2 separate regions of the Homo sapiens genome follow, and region 1 is linked to region 2. The links come from fine-mapping of genetic effects on gene expression. A gene starts in region 2. The other region holds a variant in brackets. All regions are shown on one strand. Distances are between the middles of the regions. Region 1 overlaps TNIP1 (TNFAIP3 interacting protein 1). Region 2 holds the start of GPX3 (glutathione peroxidase 3).

Region 1 (8,000 bases), 36 kb after region 2:
TGGCAAAAGGGCCAGAGAGAAAATACCAAAAGAGCCAAGGAGAAGGATCAAGAGACGTAACCTCCAAATAGGGCTCTGGGCACAGGGCCTCAGAGCCACGGTCCTCAACCCAGAAATCAGTGCTGCACACCAGCCCCTCCTCCTGCAGCCCCCACTCCTCACCCCTTCTCTGAGGGGCCTGAACTTACCGCAGCCTCTCGGCAGCCTGATCCCGCTGTTCCAGGCCCTTATCCAACTTGGCCTTCAGAGCCTCGTTCTCCTTCCGAAGCTGCTCACACAGGGTCTGTGGGGCAGGGGAACAGACAGGGTGAGGGAAAGGAGGGGCCCCTCCCAGGTGCAGGCTGAGCTAGAGGATGGTGGGGGGCCTGTAGCCACCCCAGGGCCCAACTCCTTATCCCCTTTGCCTGGCCTCACCCCATCCCTCTCTAAGGAGCTAAGCCACTTGGCCACCCACGTGTCCTCTCCCTTGGGAGCCAACTACGGAGAAGCCTGACCAAGTATCAGCCATGGGGCCTTCTGCTCCTCCAAGACAGACAGCTCCATCCCTTCTCCTTCATCCCTGCTCCCACTGCCGGGACCCCTATTCCCCACCAGCCTCCCCCAGCTGACTTCTACCCTTCTTTGAAGTCTTAGTTTAAATCCCATCTCCTCAGAGAAGTCCTCCCTGACTCCCCGATCCAGCTACATTAGGCTAACTCCGTTATCCTTGCTCACAGCCCCCCGCTTTTACGCTTCTCAGCACCTGTGGCAGATAAAGCTAAAGAACTGTTCGTGCTGCTGTTTTCTTAATATCTACCCCCTTACCCCTAATTAATTCCTGAGCTCCCGGAGGGCTGGGACCCCTAACCATCCTCTTGTTCACTGCCAGATCCCCAGCCCCCAGCTCAAAGTTTGTGGAAGGAACAACATGACTGAACAGCCAAATGAGCAAATGGACAAATGAGCAGGCGAGTCCTAGGGGGGCTGAAAGGCACACCAATTTGCAGGTGTGAGAGGTGCCCAGTGTTGCCAAGGGGAAAACCAGAAGACAAGGCATTCAGTCGGGACCTCACTATGCCCTCACGCCCTCACAATGTGGCTGTGACACTTGGTTCCTCCTCTACAAAAGAAAGACAACTGTTTCTCTTTTTTTTTTTTTTTTTTTTTTTTTTAAGACAGAGTCTCACTCTGTTGCCCAGGCTGGACTGCAGTAGCATGATCTCAGCTCACTGCAACCTCCACCTCCCAGGTTCAAGAGATTCTCCTGCCTCAGCCTCCTGAGTAGCTGGAACTACAGGTGTGTGCCACCATGCCTGGCTAATTTTTGTATTTTCAGTACAGACGGGGTTTCACCATGTTGGCCAGGCTGGTATCAAACTCCTGACCTCAAGTGATCCACCTGCCTCAGTCTCCCAAAGTGCTGGGATTACAGGCATGAGCCACCACACCTAGCCCAGGGACAACTGTTTCTTCTCTGCCTCCTCTATAGGGCTGCTGAGAGGGACAGATGAGACAGTGAGAGTGGAAGTGTCCATGAACCATCAGTCACTTGCTTATGTGCGGGGACTCATATTGGAAGCTCTGTGAACTGGGGGCATGGAAGAGGGGTCGCCAGACTCAGGACCTCACAGGCTGGGGGGAAGGGAAGGTGCTGACTAGCAATGCTAGCATACAGTGTCAGCACAGAGTTGTTCAATCTTTCCACAGATCCTCACTGAGCACCTCACCTGTGCCAGGTACATTGCTCGGTGTTTCTCCATATACTGCCTCACTGGTGCCTCACAACTTCCTCAAAGCTAAGTAACTCATCTCTATGTTAAAGGTAGGGAAACCAGGTAAAATGATACAGTCTAACAGGTGCACAGCTGCTAAGACTCATCACTGGCGGGGAGTAAAACTCCAATTGGCAGACCCCACACTGGTGTCTCTTTCCCCTGTGATGAAAGATCAGAGAAGGGAGAGAGATGGTGCCCAAAGGAGGGGACAGCCTTTGAGCTGGGCCAGGACCAGGGCCATTCACTAAACAGCCATCTGCTGCCTTCCACCTCCCAGGCCTGTTGCAGGTGGATGCAACCATGTGACTAGTTCTGGCCAACAAAAGAGGTGTAGAAGGGACAAGCATCACTCCTGGACTGGCCTACGCACAATTCTCCAGTCTCTTTTTCCTGGTAGCAGGGGCTGATGTGGATGCCTCGTATTCTAAAGGGCACCGGAAAGTTGGGCCCCTGTCTCCCTGGGACTCTAAGGAACTGTGTAGAGCAGAAACAAACCCCTGCCACACAGAATAGGAGGGAAAACTTTTGTTGTGTAACCCAGGGAGATTTCAGAGTTGTTTCATTTCTGACTCACAAAGGAGACTCTTGGGAAGGCTGAATGGAGGACACAGCCTTCAACTGGAGGTGGCTGGACAATGAGGGAGATGAGGCTTAGCAAACAGAGAACCAGCTGGGCATGGTGGCTCACACCAGTAATCCCAGCACTTTGGGAGGCTGAGGCAGGAGGATCACTTGAGCCCAGGAGTTCAACACCAGTCTGGGCAACATGGCAAAACCCTGTCTCTACTAAAAATACCAAAAAATTGGCCAGGCATAAGGGCGCATGCATGTAGTCTCAGCTATTCAGGGAACTGAGGTGGGAGAACTGAGCCCAGGAGGTCAAGGCTGTAGTGAGCTGTGGTCGCACCACTGCACTCCAGCCTGGGTGGCGGAGCAAGACCCTGTCCCCCAACACCCCTTAAAAAAAAGAAATCAAAAAATTATTGTTATGAGTCCATTCAATGCCTAGCAGAGAGCCTTATGCTATACCTGACCTTGAATATGTTTGTTTAGTGAACCAAGAAACACATCAGTGAATGAATGAGGAGGAACTGGATCAATACACCTCCACCCAGGCAGTAAAAATACCCAAGATGCCATGTCTCTGGGCGAGGCCTCCAGGGAACAGAATGGCCTGCTCCTAGTCCCTAAGGGAAGGCCAGGACAAGGCCTCACTTGCTGTCCTACCCTTGCAGTCTAGAGAGCTGTTTCCTTGGAGTCTCTGGGCCAATGCCCTGGGTGCAAACCGGCCAATGGATAGAATCATCAGAGGTCACAAAGATCATCACCTTCCATCCAAGGTGCTACGAGAGCTATGAGTTCATTTGATCATTTATTATTTTGTCCTTTCATTCATTCACCAAGTGTGTATGAAGTGCCACGAACTGGGACGCAACAGTGAATACAACAGACATGGTGCCTGCCCCCCTCAAGCTTACCTTCTAGCAGAGAGTATAAGAAAAAAAAGAGTATAAGAAAAAATGTATTAAATAAAATTATTACAAACTATGATAAGAGCTAAGAAGGAAATAAACAAGGAGGGGACTGAAATAAAAAATAACAGAGGTTGGCAGGACCCCTTTTAAGGGGCCTAGGATCTATCCCCATCTCAAAGCTGAAAAGTGGATGCGCAAAGTGCTCTCACCCCAGGCACCTTCCTACCCTGCCCACAGCCTAGGCACTGTGCCAGGCTCACCTTGCCAGGGTTCAGCCTGGATACCTTGAAGCCTCACTGACATCTTAAAGGGGTTCCCTTCTCTCAGCCTGGCTCTCCAGGCCTCTGCCTCTCGTTCAGCCTCACCTCCCAACACACCCCTCCCCTCCAGGTGGGATGGGCATCCTCCGTGCTCCTCTACCCCCACACCTCTCCTCATACTGCATCTCCAACCTGATTGCCCTTCATGCCCTCGGCAACCAAGGTCACGCAAGGGGGACTCCCCCTTCTGCCATCAGCGGGGCACTTGAGTGCCTGCTGACATGAATGAGACCACAGATCAGAGAATGGCCTGGGAGGAGAGTCTGCAGGGAGTAAGGAGGCTTCAAGTCATGGCTCTGTCACTAAGGTGGCGGGCACTCAGATCACGAGCAGTCCCTCAGAAGCCTCCGTTTTGCCATCTTTAGAATGGTCACCAATTATAACTGAACACTTCCCCGCTGCTAAAGCCCACAAGGCTAAGACCCCCTGCCCAGTGTGGATGCCCGTCATGAACTCCGAATGGGGACCTCTCTTCCAGCATGGACTAGGTTCTGGACTGCACTGGGTGCTTCATGTACATGGCCTCATTTAATGCAGCAATCTAACCATGGAGGCACTTCTAGCTCATGTTACTGATAGGAACATTGGGGGATAGAGAGGATAAGTGACTTGTCCAAGGTCATACAGCAATAAAGGGTCACTACTGGAACCAAGGACCATATAACTCCAAGGTCTGGCCTGGCCTAGCAAGGAAATCTGTCCATTCCCCACAGCACAGGGAGGCTTTCAAAAGGAATTCAATAGGGGAGGCAGGTTGGGATGGTGGTCAAGAGTATGGGCTTTGGAATGCGAGAGATCGAGGTTCCAATCCCTACTTCACCATTTACCAGCTGGGTGACCTTGGGCAAAAAAAGGGCTGCTTCCCCACCTGTGAAGTGGTGATAATGAGGGTGCCTACCCTGGGGGGAAAGAGGCATTATGAAAGGAGTTGACCTTTGTTCCCTCCCTTCCCATCCCCCAACCCTGCACATGAGAAATAAAGGCAGGGCTGCTGGGGGTATCCCCAACCATGACACTCGCATTGCCCATCCCGTATTTCCCCATTTCCTTCCTCTTCCTCATCCCTCCCCA[CA/C]ACTTCCTTATCCTGTTCATCACCCTGAACAAAAAGCCCGAAGTCTGCCCACAACACAGCCTTCAGAAGTCCCCATGGTACCAGTGGATTCCCAGGAGCAGGAAGGTGGGAAGAGCTCGGGGGGAAGCACGCCTGCCTGTCTCGGGCTGCCCTCCCCACGCGCCTCACCTGCAGAATGGAGGTGCGCTGCTCATTCTTGTGCACCTTGGATGCCAGTCGGTTGAACTCCAGGGCCATGCGGCCCAGGTGGGTGAAGAGCTGGCCGTGGTCCGGCTCCTCGGCACACACACTCAGCGTGGTCTCCAGGCGCTGCAGGTGCAGCATCAGGTTGCCGTCCTCACGGGGCAGGGGGCCCAGCGCCTGGAGAGGGAAAGGGCACACGGCCCACTCTTCACCAAGGCCTGAGTAGGCGCCGCCAGTCCATTCTCCCTCTGCTTCCTCATTTCTCATGACTCAGTTTCCCCCTGTGACCCCAGCTCAGCCCCGGGAAATTCTCCAGTTATGCAGGTTCCCTGTCTGGGGCTGACTCACAGGGCAGAACCCAGGACTCACAGGCCACTGGTGGCTCCACAGCAGCGGGGCCACCATCCTCCCACACACTGGGCCTTGCAGAGTGCCTGACAGTAAGTCACTTGTCTGCTGGACCTCAGCATCCTCATCTACCAAATGTCCGCACAACCCTTCCCTCCCTTCAACCTCACAGGGTTCTTAGGAGGATGAATTGACCCCTGACAGTAACAAGCCCAGAAAAGGGACATCACTGCACAGTCAGCCCTCCATATCCATGGGTTCCGCATCCATGGATTCAACCAACTGCAGATCAAAAATCTTCTAAAAAAACAAACTGGCCGGGCGCGATGGCTCACGCCTGTAATCCCACCACTTTGGGAGGCTGAGCGGGCAGATCACAAGGTCAGGAGATCAAGACGGCCTGAGTGGTGAAACCCTGTCTCTACTAAAAATACAAAAATTAGCTGGGCATGGTGGCACGTGCCTGTAATCCCAGCTACTTGGGAGGCTGAGGCAGGAGAACTATTTGAACCAGGGAGTCGGAGGTTGCAGTGAGCAGAGATCGCACCACAGCACTCCAGCCTGGGCAACAGAGCAAGATTCCGTCCCAAAACAAACAAACAAAAAACTGTATTGAACATGTACAGAATTTTTTTCTTGTCATTATTCCCTAAACAATACAGTATACCAAAATTTAGCATTTACATTGTATTAGGTATCGTAAGTAATCTAGAGATGATTTAAAGTATATAGGAGGATGTGTATAGGTTATAGGGAACTACTACGCCATTTTACATCAGGGACTTGAGCATCCATGGATTTTGGGTATCCTCAGGGAGTTCTGGAACCACTCTCCCATGTTTACCAAGGGACATCTGCATATACGTCCTGCAACCTCCGCCTCCTGGGTTCAAGCGATTCTCCTGCCTCAGGCTCCTGAGGAGCTGGGATTACAGGTGTGCACCACTACACCAAGCTAATTTTTGTATTTTTAGTTGAGACGGGGTTTCACCACAATGGCCAGGCTGGTCTTGAACTCCTGACCTCAGGTGATCCACCCACCTCGGCCTCCCAAAGTACTGAGATTACAGGCGTAAGCCACCATGCCTGGCCTACACATGTGTCTTCTGGGGAATGGCCCAAGCATTCATCAGCTTCTGAGGACCCAAGACTCAAAACAGTTTAAGGAACCACAGCTTTAGCTATTTCAGAAAGTCCCAAACTAGTACAGTATGTAAGAAATAAAGCACACCGTGGGCCAGATAGTTGACTCTTTCTCTCTAGTCTATCTGGAATACTCCTACCAAAGACATTGCCTTTGTTACACCAATTCCACTCCCAAGGACCTGCAGTGTTACCCTACTGCAGACGGCACTGGGCCCAGCTCCCCTGCTGGGCATCTAAGGCCCTACAGCCGCAGGTCCCATCCACAGCAGCATCCAGTTGGGCTCCCCACTTTACCCTGCCTGAACCCACACACACCAGGTCTGGTGTCTCTGCATGTGTCCTCTCTGTGTCCTCTCTGCCTCTGCAAGTTCTGCTCATCCTTCCCACCCTGTCCACGGCTCAGCTCCTCCAGCAGCCTCCCGGAAACAGTTATGGGAATCACAGGACAGCAGAGCTACAGGGAGCCTCAGAGATCAGGCCGGGAAACCAAGCTATGGGGAGGAGGAACTTGCCCAAAGTTGCCCTGTAAGTCAGTGGCAGAGGTATAACGAGAACTGAGGTTTCCTGACTCGCCATCCAGTGCTCTGCTGCACTGACCTCCCACTTCTCTGAACTCTGGAGGAATGGCAATGACTATAACCCCAACTTGGCATTCCCTGAACACCTGTGTAATGGCGTCAGTGTGCCGCATTCTAACAAGAGGAAATGCTGCTGTTTCAACTCTGCATCCATTCCCCCACTGCCTCTTTCCACAAAGGAGCTGAGGTGGCAGATGCTGCTCTATTTAAGGCTCATGCGATGCTTCCCATGCCTGCGACTTCTCCAGACTACAAGCTTCAGAGCACAGGGAGGCTGTGTTGTCTTGGCTCAAGTGGCTCAGCAGAGACAGGCACACTGTAGAGCTAATGAGGAACTTACTACGTCAGTTAAAGTTATCGGTCCAAAGTCAGAGTGAAACACTTTCTGAGCAGGGGATCTTGCCTCCATGGCCAGCATCTCAGAGCCCTCAGGGACAGAACAGGACAAGGGGACAGAAGGTTCCAGGCGACAGAACATAAAGAGCCTTTCCAATACTCAGAGCTGCCTGAGGCAGTGGTGAGCCTCTCAACACTGAAGGCATGCTAGTTAGCCAGACAGCCACCTGAGGGGGCCCTGCACTGGGCACTGACAGGTACATGGGGCAACCAGTGAACACAAGCATATTTGTCAGCCAAACCTTTGTGAAGGGAGGCAGCAGGGATCAATATATCAGTGAAGGGCTAGAGCACCTATTGCTCGCATAACAACAATTAAAGAAAAAAACTTAAAAGTGGGAAGGAAGGGAGAATGGAGAAGGTAGAAATTTAAGTCGTTTAAAGAATCTTCCAGACTTTTCACAATGGTTCTTCAATAAGTCTGCCATTTTAAGAAAGAACAGAAGGAGATATAGTTAGGAAAAAGGCAGCCAGTGTTGTAAGGTGTGGAATGAGGATGCTGGGCAGACGCTCCAGAGCTGTACGAGAGACAGAGAGAGAGAGAGAGAGAGAGAGAGAGAGAGAGAGAGAGAGAGAGAGAGTGTGTGTGTGTGTGTGTGTGTGTGTGTGTGTGTGTGTGCGCGCGCGCGCGCGCATGCGTGTAAGTGGAAAGTTGAACCTCCTTCCTGTGTGCTCCAAGAGTCTGCACAAAGAGCAAATCACCTGTCTTACAGGGCCCTGGGCCTTCC
Region 2 (12,605 bases):
AAGCATATAGATCCAAGAGGAGGGAAGGGACATTTTGGCTGAAAGCTTGGAACTATATCTAGCATAGATAAATGTGATTCTCATAGGTGCTTGTATTTGCTATGGGACCCTGGACCAATCATTCAGTCTCTTGAAGCCTTAGCCTCTCCCATAAGAGGGTGGAATGAGCTAGTCTCTAGGGATTCTTCTTTTTATAACTCTCCCTCTAAGTGGGCTTTGCAGGCAGAGGGAGTCATTAACTCCTGCTATGGTCTGAGTGTTCCCCCTCCCGCATATTCCGATATTGACTTTTTTTTTTTAAGAGTCTCACTCTGTCTTCCAGGCTGGAGTGCAGTGGCACGATCTCAGCTCACTGCGACCTCCAACTCCCTGGTTCAAGCAGTTCTCCTGCCTCAGCCTCCTGAGTAGCTGGGACTACAGGCGCACACCACCATGCCTGGCTAATTTTTGTATTTTTAGTAGAGATGGGGTTTCACCATGTTGGTCAGGCTGGTCTGGAACTCCTGACCTCATGATCCGCCTGCCTCGGCCTACTAAAGTGCTGGGAATACAGGCGTGAGCCACACTGCGCCTGGCTATATTGACATCTTAACCCCCAAGTGATGCTATTAGGAGGTGGGAACTTGGGAGGTGATTAGGTCATAAAGGTGGATGGAGCACTCATGAATGGAATAAATGCCCTTATAAAAAAGGCCCAAGAAAGGCCCCTCACCCCATCTACCATGTGAGGGTACAGTGAGAAGACAGCCATGTATGAGGAAGCAGGTCCTCACCTGATCCCAAATCCTTGATCTTGGACTTCCCAGCCTGAGAACTGTAAGAAATAAATCTGTTATTTACATGCCACCCAGTTTATAGAATTTTATTATAGCAGCCCAAACGGATTAAGACAACTCCATTTCAGGTAAGCCCAACAAACCTAGTATTTGCCAGGCCAGGTCCTGTTGAGGCTTAATTGAGAAATGTGTAGCAAATTGTTAGTAGTACAGGCCCGAGACCATGATCCTTAGACCGCTACACTTGGCCTGTGGTCAGCTCTTGGGAACTTCTATTTCAGAAGGATTTCCACCATTCCCCAAACTAATAAGAGTAGCTCATTATGCCTAAACTGGACAAACAATGCAGTTTCTGTTGACTGCCTAATTTTCTTCTGGGAGTTTAGAATTCTGGTATGTGCTTAGCCAAGGATGCCTATGTGACCAGCCCCTAACAAAAACCCTGGCATTGAGTCTCCAGTGAACTTCCCTGGTAAACAACATTTTACACATGCTGTTACAGTTCATTGACAAAGGAATGAAGCACATCCTGTGTGCTTAATTCAGCTGGGGGATGATTCTGGGAATCTCGTGGCTGTTTTCTTCCAGACTTTGTCCCATGCACCTTTTCCCTTTGCTGATTTTGTAACCTTGTGCTGTAATAAATCATAGTGTCAGTGTACTTATATGCTGAGTTCTGTGAGTCCTCCTAGCAAATCACTGAACCTAGAGGTGATCTGGGGACCCCCAACAGGAGTTAAGCCTAGATTTCACAGAGTCAATCATAATCTTGTGCCAGTCCCTTAAGAGTATACAGCTGAAACCAGTGCTATCCAACAGAGATATAATGTGAGTCACATGTAATTTTACATTTTCTAGTGGCTATATTTTAAAAACCAAAAAGAAACAGGCAAAACTAATTTTAAGCACATGTTTTCTTCAACCCAATATATTATTATTCTTTTATTTTTATTTTCGAGACAGAGTCTCACTCTGTCACCCAGGCTGGAGTGCAGTGGTACAATCACCACTCACTGCAGCCTCAATCTCCTGGGCTCCAGTGATTTGCCCAGCTAATTTTGAAAATTTTTGTAGAGATGTGGTCTCACTATGTTGCCCAGGCTGGTCTCAAACTCCTGGGCTCAAGCCATCCTCTTACCTCAGCCTCCCAAAGCGCTGGGATTACAGGCGTGAGCCATTATGCTCAGCTAACCCACTATATTAAAAATATATTTAAAATATTTCCATATGCAATTTTATTAAATTAAGATATTTTATATTCTTTTATCACACTAAGTCTTCAGAAAACACTGTGTGTTTTATACTCACAGCACAGATCAGTTTGTACTAGCCCTACTCCAAGCGTGCAACAGCCACACACGCCCATGGCCTGCCTGCTATATTGGCTTAGAGGTTAATGGCAAGGGCTCTGGAGACAGTATATGCGGAGGCTAAAGACACTCTGTCTAGGATGCTGATTCAACCATGTTGATTTCTGATTAACTCCAGTTCCAGGAAAGCCGCTAAGGTTTTCAGTTTATCTACTCTTCCTTGTGTAAGAGCATGTCCTTAACATAAATATTCCCCTTAGGTGAAAACAAACTTAATATTCTCACACTTCAGTTGGCCTACACATCCCTTCAATAGGGAAATCGCCCCTTCCCTATGCTATATAAGCCCTGGGCTGAGGAGGGGTAATAGCTTGGGGATCCACTATCTCACTTCACAGCCACCTAAGACTTCTGTGGCTTCTGTTTCTAAGTCCCTAATAAATGTTTCTTTCTGAGAAACTGGGTATGTCAGCTTCTTTCTTCAGCTTCTCAGCCTCCTCTGACTGGCTGGCGCGGGGGTGGGGTAGGTTTACAGAGATCTGCTCACAGCAGAATAGTATGTGTGGGTCAGAATCCCGGTTCTGTGACTTACCAACTGCATAACCTTAAGCAAAGTTGCTTAACCTCTCTATGTATTAGTTTCTTCATTTACAAAATGGGGATAATAATGTTGGCTACCTCAAGAGGTTGCAGAGATTAATTAATCTAAGGCAGCACCTGGTATAGATAGGATATTGAGTGAATGCTGGCTGCTACTCTCTTTATGCTAAAGCTTGGCCCATGGAGATCAACTTGTCTAACACCTCGTTCCATAAATGAGAAAACTGCAGCCCAGAGTTTGGAAGGCACTAGTTTCACAAGCAAAAACTACAGCCACCCACCTCTCCTCTTGATGAACTCCCTGTCTTCTGGCTGGCCCTGAGATCAAATTTGCCAATTATTTAGGAAATTGGCAGCTCCAGGGCCCCAGCTCGGTTCTGCAATTTCTCTCGATTGCAAAACAAGGGCTACTGTTTGAAGTTGGCACTGAAGTGACGCAGGCTGGGCCTCACTTCTGCTTCCACCTAGGCTCATCAGTTAGAGTGGCTGATCCCATCTTTGAGTTCAGAACCTGAAATGTTTACTAACCAATAATAAGGCTGGCTTTCGTTGTTTTAACTTTTTACAATCCTTTGAGTTTATTAATTTGTGTTCTATCTTCCTTGAAGACACAGTGCATCAGCACTTTTTGTAAAACCTCTTTTTAAGTCATCTTCGGTCTCTGTTCACCTACCAAGTAGGTAAGTAGTGAGCTCCCTATAGAGGTCTCTAAAAAATAGGATGAAGAGGTTCCGAGTGCTCACTTGTCTGGAATGCGGAAGACGTGTTCTCAGACTGGAAGCAAAACTAGCTTATGATTCTTCTACAGCTTCTCCTTCCATCCCTCCCTTCCCATTTTGGCCAATGCAAATCATCTACTCTCCTCTGACAAGCCTACTCATCATAACCCGCACGTCTTGAATCTTCCTAGAAGATGAAATCAGACCAGTCTTGCGGGCTCTACATGGTTACAACTTGCTAACTTGAAGCTCTCCTTATTCTATATGCCAAATATTGTTTTCCTTGACATTAATTTATTTGATAGATATGTATCAAGCAACTACTATGTATTAAGCTCTGTGCTGGTGCTGGTGCCTTTTTGGATCTTATAATTTAGTGCAGAAAATAGACAAACAAGAAATGATGATAAAGTACAACAAAGGGTCGATGTACAAAGTGTCAAATACTCTAGGAACTACAGGAAAACAAGGGAACCATCACGAAACCCCTGTCTTAAGACGTGACATTAGTGGAGATATGAAAAATGAGTAGGATAGTACCAGTTAAAGGGAGACAACCTCTGTTCCAAGCACAGGGAACAGCAGAGATGAAACCTGGAAGTGAGGGAGAATGGCAGACTGCAAGAACGGAAAAATGTCCAGTGTAGCGGAGGCAGAGAGAATATGGAGAGTGTGGCAAAAGAGGAAGAAGCAGATGGATTTTGAGGGCACTTTCTGAAGTGCTAAGGAATTTAGACTTTAACCTGAGGGCAATCAGAAGCAGCCTGGTGGAGAACGATATATTTCAAAACATAGGGTCCTTGAAAACAAGTCAACCAAATGTATTTAAAAGGCTGCTGATGAAAAGATTGGGAAGTATTGTTTTCATTCTCATTGTTTTCACTGTCATGCTCTTTGTGCCAATGGTTAGACCTCCTTTGAAAGCTCACTGCAGCATGAAAGCCCTTCTTAATGCCAGGGCAGGCTCCCCAAGCCTCCCCACCCCACTGTCCATGTCATCAGTTTTGTACTCCTGTTTTGTATGGCTCAGGCTTTCCTTATACTCTTAGGAATGAAAAGCCACAGACACCACCACTGAGAGACTGTCAAAGATCCTTGTTAAATAGGTGGACAACTGAGATCAGAGAAGGAAAGTAATTTTATTACTTTCCGTAGCAATCCAGGGGTAGCATCTCAGGTCTCTGGCTCCTTCTTGTCTCCCCTAAAGAAATAGACCACCAGGGCTGGGATTAAGGTGAGACAAGTGAGACATAGAGGGTGCAAAATGTAGAGAGATGCCCGCTGCCAGGTGCCAGCCTGCACTTGTGTGACCCTAGGTGCCTTCCCTTCCCTCACCCTGCTGGTATCTGCTGGAAACACCTTTGAGAGCAGGGACTTTGGCTTTTAGACAACTCTTTAGCATCTCTCATGGTGTTAACATGTTGCTAGGTGCCTATTTTGAGGGTCACTAGATGCCTACTGATACTAATGAACAATGGATTTCTGACAAACTGATGTGCACACAGATGTTTATATTTTAGGGTAAATACGAACCTTAAAAGACAACAGAACAACATGGAGAGGGCCTGAGACTGAGTCTAGAGACCTGGATTCTGGTTCCCTCCCTGCCATCAGTTGGTTATGGGAACTTGGATAAATTGCTCCTCATCTCTAGGCTTCAGGGAAATGAGGTGGTTGAATAAAACGTATTGAGCACTTACTGTGTGTCAGCCATTGTTCATATGCTCCCAGGCTTTAACTCAGCTAAAGACTTCCTGGCCTCTGTGGTTCCTTCCACTTCAACAGGCTGTGGTTTGAGGTGGGAAGACTTCGTAGAGAATGCAAAACTTGAGAGACATCTTCCAAATTCCCAGGGGGATGTTAATACCTTTAATCATAGTAAAGGTATGGTTTCTCAAGGCATTTCTTGGTCAGAAGAAAGTTCCAGAAGGCACTTAATCCTAGGACTCACACTACCAAGGCTACAGCCAGGCCAACTGCCTCACAATAACCTTAGAACATGTCTGAAGACAGATTTTCAGCTTCTGCCCCTAGAGATTCTAATGCAGTGATTCCAAAGTGGGGTCCAGGAATCTGTATTAAAGGCTTCCCAGTTGACTCTGGTGGTCAGAGAGATTTGAGACTGATTCCATCACATTCCCCATCTGTGAACGGGATCATACCTAGACAGCCCAGCCCTAGAACTGCCTGGTCTGATCCTAAGTGTTCCATGGAGATTTTGTTTTTTTAATGTAATGAATGATTAAGTCAGCAAATACTTTACATCTCTTGTGTGCTAGGCCCTGTGCCAGGTGGTGATTATGGGCCCTATTCTCAAAGGACTCCTGGTCTCCGTCTGTCACTTACTTTAGAAACAAGTCATCTAGCCAGAGCCAGAAGGGCACTGGAGATCACTAATCAATCCCATCATTACATAGCTGAGGAAACTGAGGCCCAGAGAGTAACTGCAACATGTTAAAGACTACACAGGGAGCAAATTTATTTTCTGCTTCTAAGCCAGGTGGTTTGGCCACAGATAGGCCAAGAAGAATACGAACAGACAAGCCTTGCTGGGTTTCCCACTCAGTTTATTACTATTAGACCATTCCCTTTTTCCCCACTCACATTTCTGCGCATTTCCATGGTCTTCATAGAATCTAAGCCTAAAAATAGAGTTTTCCTTGAGTCTTTGGGTCTTCATTTCTGAAGACTCTCATGTCACAGAAAACTTTAATTAAATAAATCGTTATGCTTTTCTCTTGCTAACCTTTTTCTACAGGCATGTCAGCTGTGATCCTTATGATGGGGAGGAAAGGCACCCCACCTTCTCTGTCCCTACAGTCCTAATGCCCTACCCAGAATGGGGTTTTCAAAATCCCAGGACACCCACTCTTTGTTTCTTAAGCACTAAACCTATATATAGTAAATGTTTCTGGAAGTTTAACTTCAGCTCTTGCTGAAATTTTAAACCCTCAATTTCCAGAGGACCATCGCCAGGTGTTTTTAAAACCTCGATAGGAATAAGAAATGCTTCCCAGAATGGAGACTTCCATCAGTTCTAGGGAGCTATTAGCCCCCTTGCCCTGGCTGTAATGGAGACCGCTGTGTCTGCCTCCTTTCGCACTTTGGAGCCAAAAGAGGAAGGGACCGCCTCCCACGTCCACAGGGACCTGACTTCCACCTCTCTGCCCAGATTTGCTTATGTCACTGTCGCCCCGGGACGGGGAGGTGGGGAGCTGAGGGCAAGTCGCGCCCGCCCCTGAAATCCCAGCCGCCTAGCGATTGGCTGCAAGGGTCTCGGCTTGGCCGCGGATTGGTCACACCCGAGGGCTTGAAAGGTGGCTGGGAGCGCCGGACACCTCAGACGGACGGTGGCCAGGGATCAGGCAGCGGCTCAGGCGACCCTGAGTGTGCCCCCACCCCGCCATGGCCCGGCTGCTGCAGGCGTCCTGCCTGCTTTCCCTGCTCCTGGCCGGCTTCGTCTCGCAGAGCCGGGGACAAGAGAAGTCGAAGGTGAGTGAGCCTCCGGGCCGGGGGCCGGGAGAAAAAACCTAGCCCCTCGGTGTCCAGCGCTCAGTGCAATGCACCCCTTTTCCCAGGCTCCCCGCCAGATGGGCAATCCCCAGGTGCGAGAGACCTCCTGAACCCCTTTTGCCGCCCCCTCCGCCGCCGGGACCCCGCCCCCGACCGTCGTCGTCTCGTAGTTCCATCTGTTGGAGAGCCGAGACCTGGTGCTTCAGGCGGGCAGAATGACTAAGGGAGGAAGGTCTCTCTCCCCGAGCTCGCACTTTCTCCCCACTGCCACCTCGAGGGTCGCCTTGCTACATCTATGTCACCTCCGTGCCTGAGCTGCTCCCCTTCAGTAGGGCCTAAGAGGGAGGGCGTCACAGAAAAAAATGCCCAGCGTCTGGGTGGGCTGTGCAAGTTCCCAGGGAGAGAGACAAGGAGAAAGGAGAGAGGCAGCTGGGTGGTCCTGGTCCTGAAGAACTGCTGTGGGGGGCTCTTCTACCCCAAGAATGATACAGGCAGGTAGAAATGGCCACTTGGATTCAGGGCATTGGTAGAAGAGGCAGAGATCTGTGCTAGAAAGAGCTCTGGAGTGACAGTGCAGAACACTCAGGACCCTGAGTCCTTACCTGCTCCTGGACCCCCGTTTCTCCATCTGCAGGGGAGAGTTTGGGGGTGGGAGTGCATGGGGCACAATGAAGCTGAGGGCCTCAGAGGGGATGCTTGGAGAAGCTGAAAAATCCACAAGCTGTTCTCTGAAATTTCCTCCCCTGGGGCAGCCTCACTACCCAGGACCCACTGTCCTCATTAGCCTGAGGAAACCTGGTAGTTGGAGAAAGCTGGGGACTGCTAATTCAGAAGAAGAGGTAGAATTCTCTAGAGCCTCAGTCTATTTCCAGCAGGTGTGTGGCCCACACCTGGAGTGGGGATACTGAGGCCAGGAGTGGGATGACCCAGCATGCTTATCTCCTTTGACAGTATGTACTGGGGTGGGCTCTGTAGACCTCTCCTCTACCCAGGGAGTGGGAGTGGGTGGGGAAGGAGGCAGAAGCCAGGTGTAGGGATAGACTCAAAGCGAGCGATTTCTGTCTCCAACTTCCCAACATGCATAACTCACATTTTTGCAAGCTCTGAGCTTTTGTTTCTAAAATCCTCTGGGTCTTCACTTTAATTAAGTTCTTATGAGTCTAGGATTCCGTTTCCAAAATTCTGTCCACTTCTCAGGAAGCCCATTGGAAGCACAGGGTTCCTTCCATGTTACTCACCCCTTTTCGGTCCTCAGCCTAAATCCGATTAATCAGCCTCTCCTTGGAGTCAGTCTAAATGGATGTGAAGCCACTTCGTCCAAGTCCCCTCCTTTTTATCCATCCCTGTTCATAATCCCCAACTCAGAAGGCATTTTCCAGGTCAGGAATGGGATCGATTTTCAACATTGAGGTTTGGGGTGGGCCATAGACAGGCCAGCACCGTGGAGTCAGTCCCAACCTTCAGTTTTGGAAAGGTCAAAGAAGATACAATTGGGCCCTGCCTCAAGAAGGCTAGTGGGGAGAACGTGGACTCCATGAATAACTCATCATAGCTGTGTCTTCTCTGCAGCACTCTGGGGAAGGATAAATGGACTCAGAGAGAATAGGATGGGGATGGTCTAGAAAAGTTTTAGGGTGAGGTGTGATCATATCACATACAACCAGTCAGGACTTGCTGGCTAATGAAAGCCTGGGCATGCCCATCTCTGCTCCCAAGTTCTTAGAGTTCAGATGTCTTAGCTCTGGGTTAGGACCCAACCACTCACCTTACCCCCAACCCCAGGGTAAAGAGATAGGGTTATGGGGCATGTGGAGAATGGAATGGACGAAAGGTGACTCAGCCCCAGAGAGGTGTTTTCCTCCTACCAATTGAAAGGGAGATGCTAGGGAAGAGACCAGGTCCTCCTCTTCTTGCTGCGTCACCTCCCCAGTCCAACTTCAGGCTGCCCACGCTCCTTGTCTCTACAAAAGGACTGCAGAAGCCGGAAAGAGTGACAACTGCTGACGTGCACGGGATCCTAGTAACTGCTGGTTTCTAGGTGACTAAACCTGGCAGAGAGAATCATGGAACCACAGGCTGACAGAGTTAAAGGGCCCTTAAGACAGCCCTGAACCTGACTCCATCTTACAATGGAGGAGCTGGAGCCCCAGCAAAGGGGGTCACATGGCATCAGAGACACAGCAAAGCCCAGCACTCAGGTCTCCTGACTCCCAGACCACTTCTCACAGCATCATATTGATAGGAGTAATAAGACGGGAGAGGAGAAAGACACAAGACCAGCAGCCCCAGCCAGCCAGAGTCCTGGCTGAGTCCCATCATCCAACTCTCAAGCCATTGGAACCCTCTTCTCTTGCCCGGCTGTGGGAGGATTCAGGCACCCTCATGGCCTCTCCCCTTATCTCCTCTGGCCACTGTTTCAGATGCGGTGCTCTGGGATTCCACGTGCCCAGAGAAGGGAAGGGGGCTCATAGAGGACTGAGTTGCAGTGATCAGTGGTGAGCACAGCCGTGGCTCTCCACCCATGGGCCACCTTCTGACCCCCACTATCCCTTGACATGAGATTTCGTTCCAAGAGACTCCAGGCCTGTTTTGCTCTGCCAGCAGATTCCCACAACCATTTTGGGCAGCAGCATGCTTATCTCCCTGGACATATGCCCAGACAGTGTAAGTGACTTGCTCAGGGCCACACAGCCAGCAAAAAATAGAACCTAATGAAATAGGGTTCTCCTTGCCACACCCCCAAGCTGAAACTGTGCCCAGAAGCTGGTCCTTCTGTTTACAAGTTCCCATTATTAGGACAACCTGTAATCTTTTTTTCCTCCATGTCTCAGAGTTCATTTTTGGATCATGGCAGAGTTAAAAAAGTGGAGAGGCTATAGACATGCCTGGCTTTCTGGCCACTAGATCTTTGTGGCGGTCTAGGGTGTATTTGTTGTGCCCCAGTTTGTCTGCATTTTAAGGCGGAACTGGCCCTGGCTGGGAACGAGGAGGTCCAGGAGCAGTAGGAATGTTGATCTTAGGTCTTGGGCCTGCCTCCAGCACCCACCAAAAGTCACCGGATGTGGAATATTAGACTCATGTAAAGCAGGAAGTTTGCACCAGAGCCAAGAAGAGAGCTTGCAGCTGCCAGGGAATGGCCTGGCGGAGGAAGCGCAGCCTCGCCCAGCTCAGCAGACCTGCTTCATGACAGAGGCAGCTCTTCTGCACTCTACTGGGGCCACGCCCTGCCAGCATATATCACTCCCTTCACCTGGTCAGGCCCAGGTACCTTGCCTCAACAGCAAGTTCTCCAGAATTGAGGGGAAGAGAGGGAGTGAATTTGCTTCTCTAACTCCAGCCACCTGTCTCTGCCCTCTCCTGGTCTATAATGCTACTTTGCATTCCATTTGTTTATTGTCTGCCCACCTCTCAAAGGATATCAGGGCCACAAAGGACCTTAAAGACCACCTTATACAATGGTTTCAAGGTTTCTCCTTTCCCATCACGACCAGCCCACCTGCCAAATTGTGTCAATGATGCAATGACATCCTTTCAAGAATAGTCTCAGAATTTTGTTGTCTGTGTCACGGGCAGAGTAGGCTCATAGGCCACATCCTACTAGCCAGCAGTGACCCCAATCCCCTCTCTCCCACTGATCATGATCCTATCAAGCCATCATGGTTGACCTGGTTGGAGAGTTGGTTCAGTTCAAGGTTCTCATTTTATAAATGAGGAAACTCAGGTCCGAAGAAAAGAAAGGGCCAGTCCAAGACCACACAGGGAGTTAATGGCAAAGGGACATGGAGCCCAGGTCTCCCAGCCCACAGTCCACTGCACTCTGTCCCTCCTTGTCCTGGAGGCTGACTGTGAGCAGCAGCTGGGGAGGGAGGAAGGCATAAGGGTCATCACCAGCCTGCTCAGACCCGGAACATTAACACATGCAGGTACTGTTGCTTTTCCCTACCTCACCACAGCCCTTTCCCCCATGCCTGGCTCTCAGTCCTGCTTCCCTATTTGGTAACAACAGCTTCATCTTTCCTGTCCTGCAGATTGGGAGCCTCTGAATCACCATGTCCATACGGCCTCTTCCTCCTTTCTGTTCAGTTTTTCCTTCACACTGGCCTAGTTCAGGTTCTCATCCTCAATTGCCTGGATTATTCCAACAGCCACCCAACCAGTCTCCATCAGCCCGTCTAGGAACCCAGTCATCAGCTTTAGGGCAGTCTCCCTGAGAGCCCAGTAAATGTTCTGAAATTGACATGTGATGTGGAAGTAATTAGCAAAATAAGTCATTCTCCAGGGTTCCATAGCACTCACTTATTAAGTGCTTAATATTAATAAGTGCTTATTAGGTGCTTAATATTAATAAGTGCTTTTTAAGCACTTAATATTAAGTACCCGAAAAGCACTTATTAAGTGCTTTCATAATCATTATCTTAAACAAGGAATTAGGAGACGTCAGTGCTAGTCCAGTTCCAATTCTCGGTGATTACTTTGAGAAAGTCACTCTCTCTGTTGGGATCTTTCATTCTTTTGAAAACGGAGATGTCCAAGTTCCTTTCCAGCTCTAACTGCTCCTTTTATGGCCTGTGTTCCAGATGGACTGCCATGGTGGCATAAGTGGCACCATTTACGAGTACGGAGCCCTCACCATTGATGGGGAGGAGTACATCCCCTTCAAGCAGTATGCTGGCAAATACGTCCTCTTTGTCAACGTGGCCAGCTACTGAGGCCTGACGGGCCAGTACATTGGTAAGAGCCCACCCTTCCTCCCTGCTTTATTTGGGGCTGTATGGCATATTTCAATCACAGGAGCTTTTCTGGTGCATGGGGGAAAGGGTGATGGCAATCACGAGAGTCCAAGCCCCTTTTCTCAGCTCCACTGTGTTCCGTGGTTTTGTGAAGATGATTATATAAGCCTGAGGTCTGATTGCCTTTGGACATGTTCTAGGAGATTCCTAGTTATCCTTCTTCATCTCTGGGCACCTCAACAACCCTAAAGGCAGAGGGATAGAGATTAGGTTTGTGCTTAGAGCTCCCTTTGGCTGGAGCATGAGATGGTAACTGAAGCTCCATCTTGCTGAGAATATCTTATTTTCCCTCAGCCCCATCTGCTTTGGTGCTTCTCTTGGCAGCTCTCTGGAAAGCAGGCAATTGCCTCGAGGCCCCAGAGTGTATGCGTGGTGTAGCGGGATGAAGGAGCAGGCTACACTTCTAATGCCCATTCTAAAATAAACTTTGAAGATGATCTAGTTTAGCCTTCCCCTCTTCTCAATCTACACATGGGAAACCAAGACTCAGAGCGAAGATACAACTTAAACAGGGTCACAAAGCTATTAGCGGTGGAATGGGGCATTTGGCGCAGGTTTCATGATCTCCTGATATGCTTACTCCTTTCTCCCTAGCTGGGGTAGAATACAGAGGCTAGGGGAACAGGCAACCAAAGGCAAGCGACAGCACCCAGGGGAAAACGCTTTGGGGCTGAGCAGTCTACTGGCAGGGGGTCAGGGAGGCAAGGGCAATTTGACCCTCCATGCTCTGCCTGGCAATCACAGGCGAATTCCCGGAAGTGAAAGGACGGCGGTCACGTGGCCCAGTGGCTGTGAGTGCTTTTTCTGGGATGCTTCTCTCTAGCCTTGGAACAGAGCAGAGTGCGTTTGGGCAAGAGATGGGCTGGGTGCTGCTGCAAAAGAGACCAGGGGACACTG

What was found.
Region 1: its variant is fine-mapped to the expression of GPX3 in whole blood (TOPMed, PIP above 0.99).

What each region holds. Positions count from the first base shown.
Region 1 is chr5:151,051,977-151,059,976 of GRCh38, forward strand. It overlaps TNIP1 (TNFAIP3 interacting protein 1), which reads right to left. Exons shown (of 18, transcript NM_006058.5): 6 at 4,790-4,981; 7 at 189-283. Among named protein-coding and RNA genes, the nearest start is that of TNIP1, 25 kb to the right of the region's middle. RefSeq lists an enhancer at 4,329-4,855. The variant CA/C (reference allele first, on the strand shown) is at 4,621.
Region 2 is chr5:151,013,845-151,026,449 of GRCh38, forward strand. It overlaps GPX3 (glutathione peroxidase 3), which reads left to right and starts at 6,747. Exons shown (of 5, transcript NM_002084.5): 1 at 6,747-6,897; 2 at 11,496-11,649. The coding sequence starts at 6,811. RefSeq lists an enhancer at 8,192-9,391.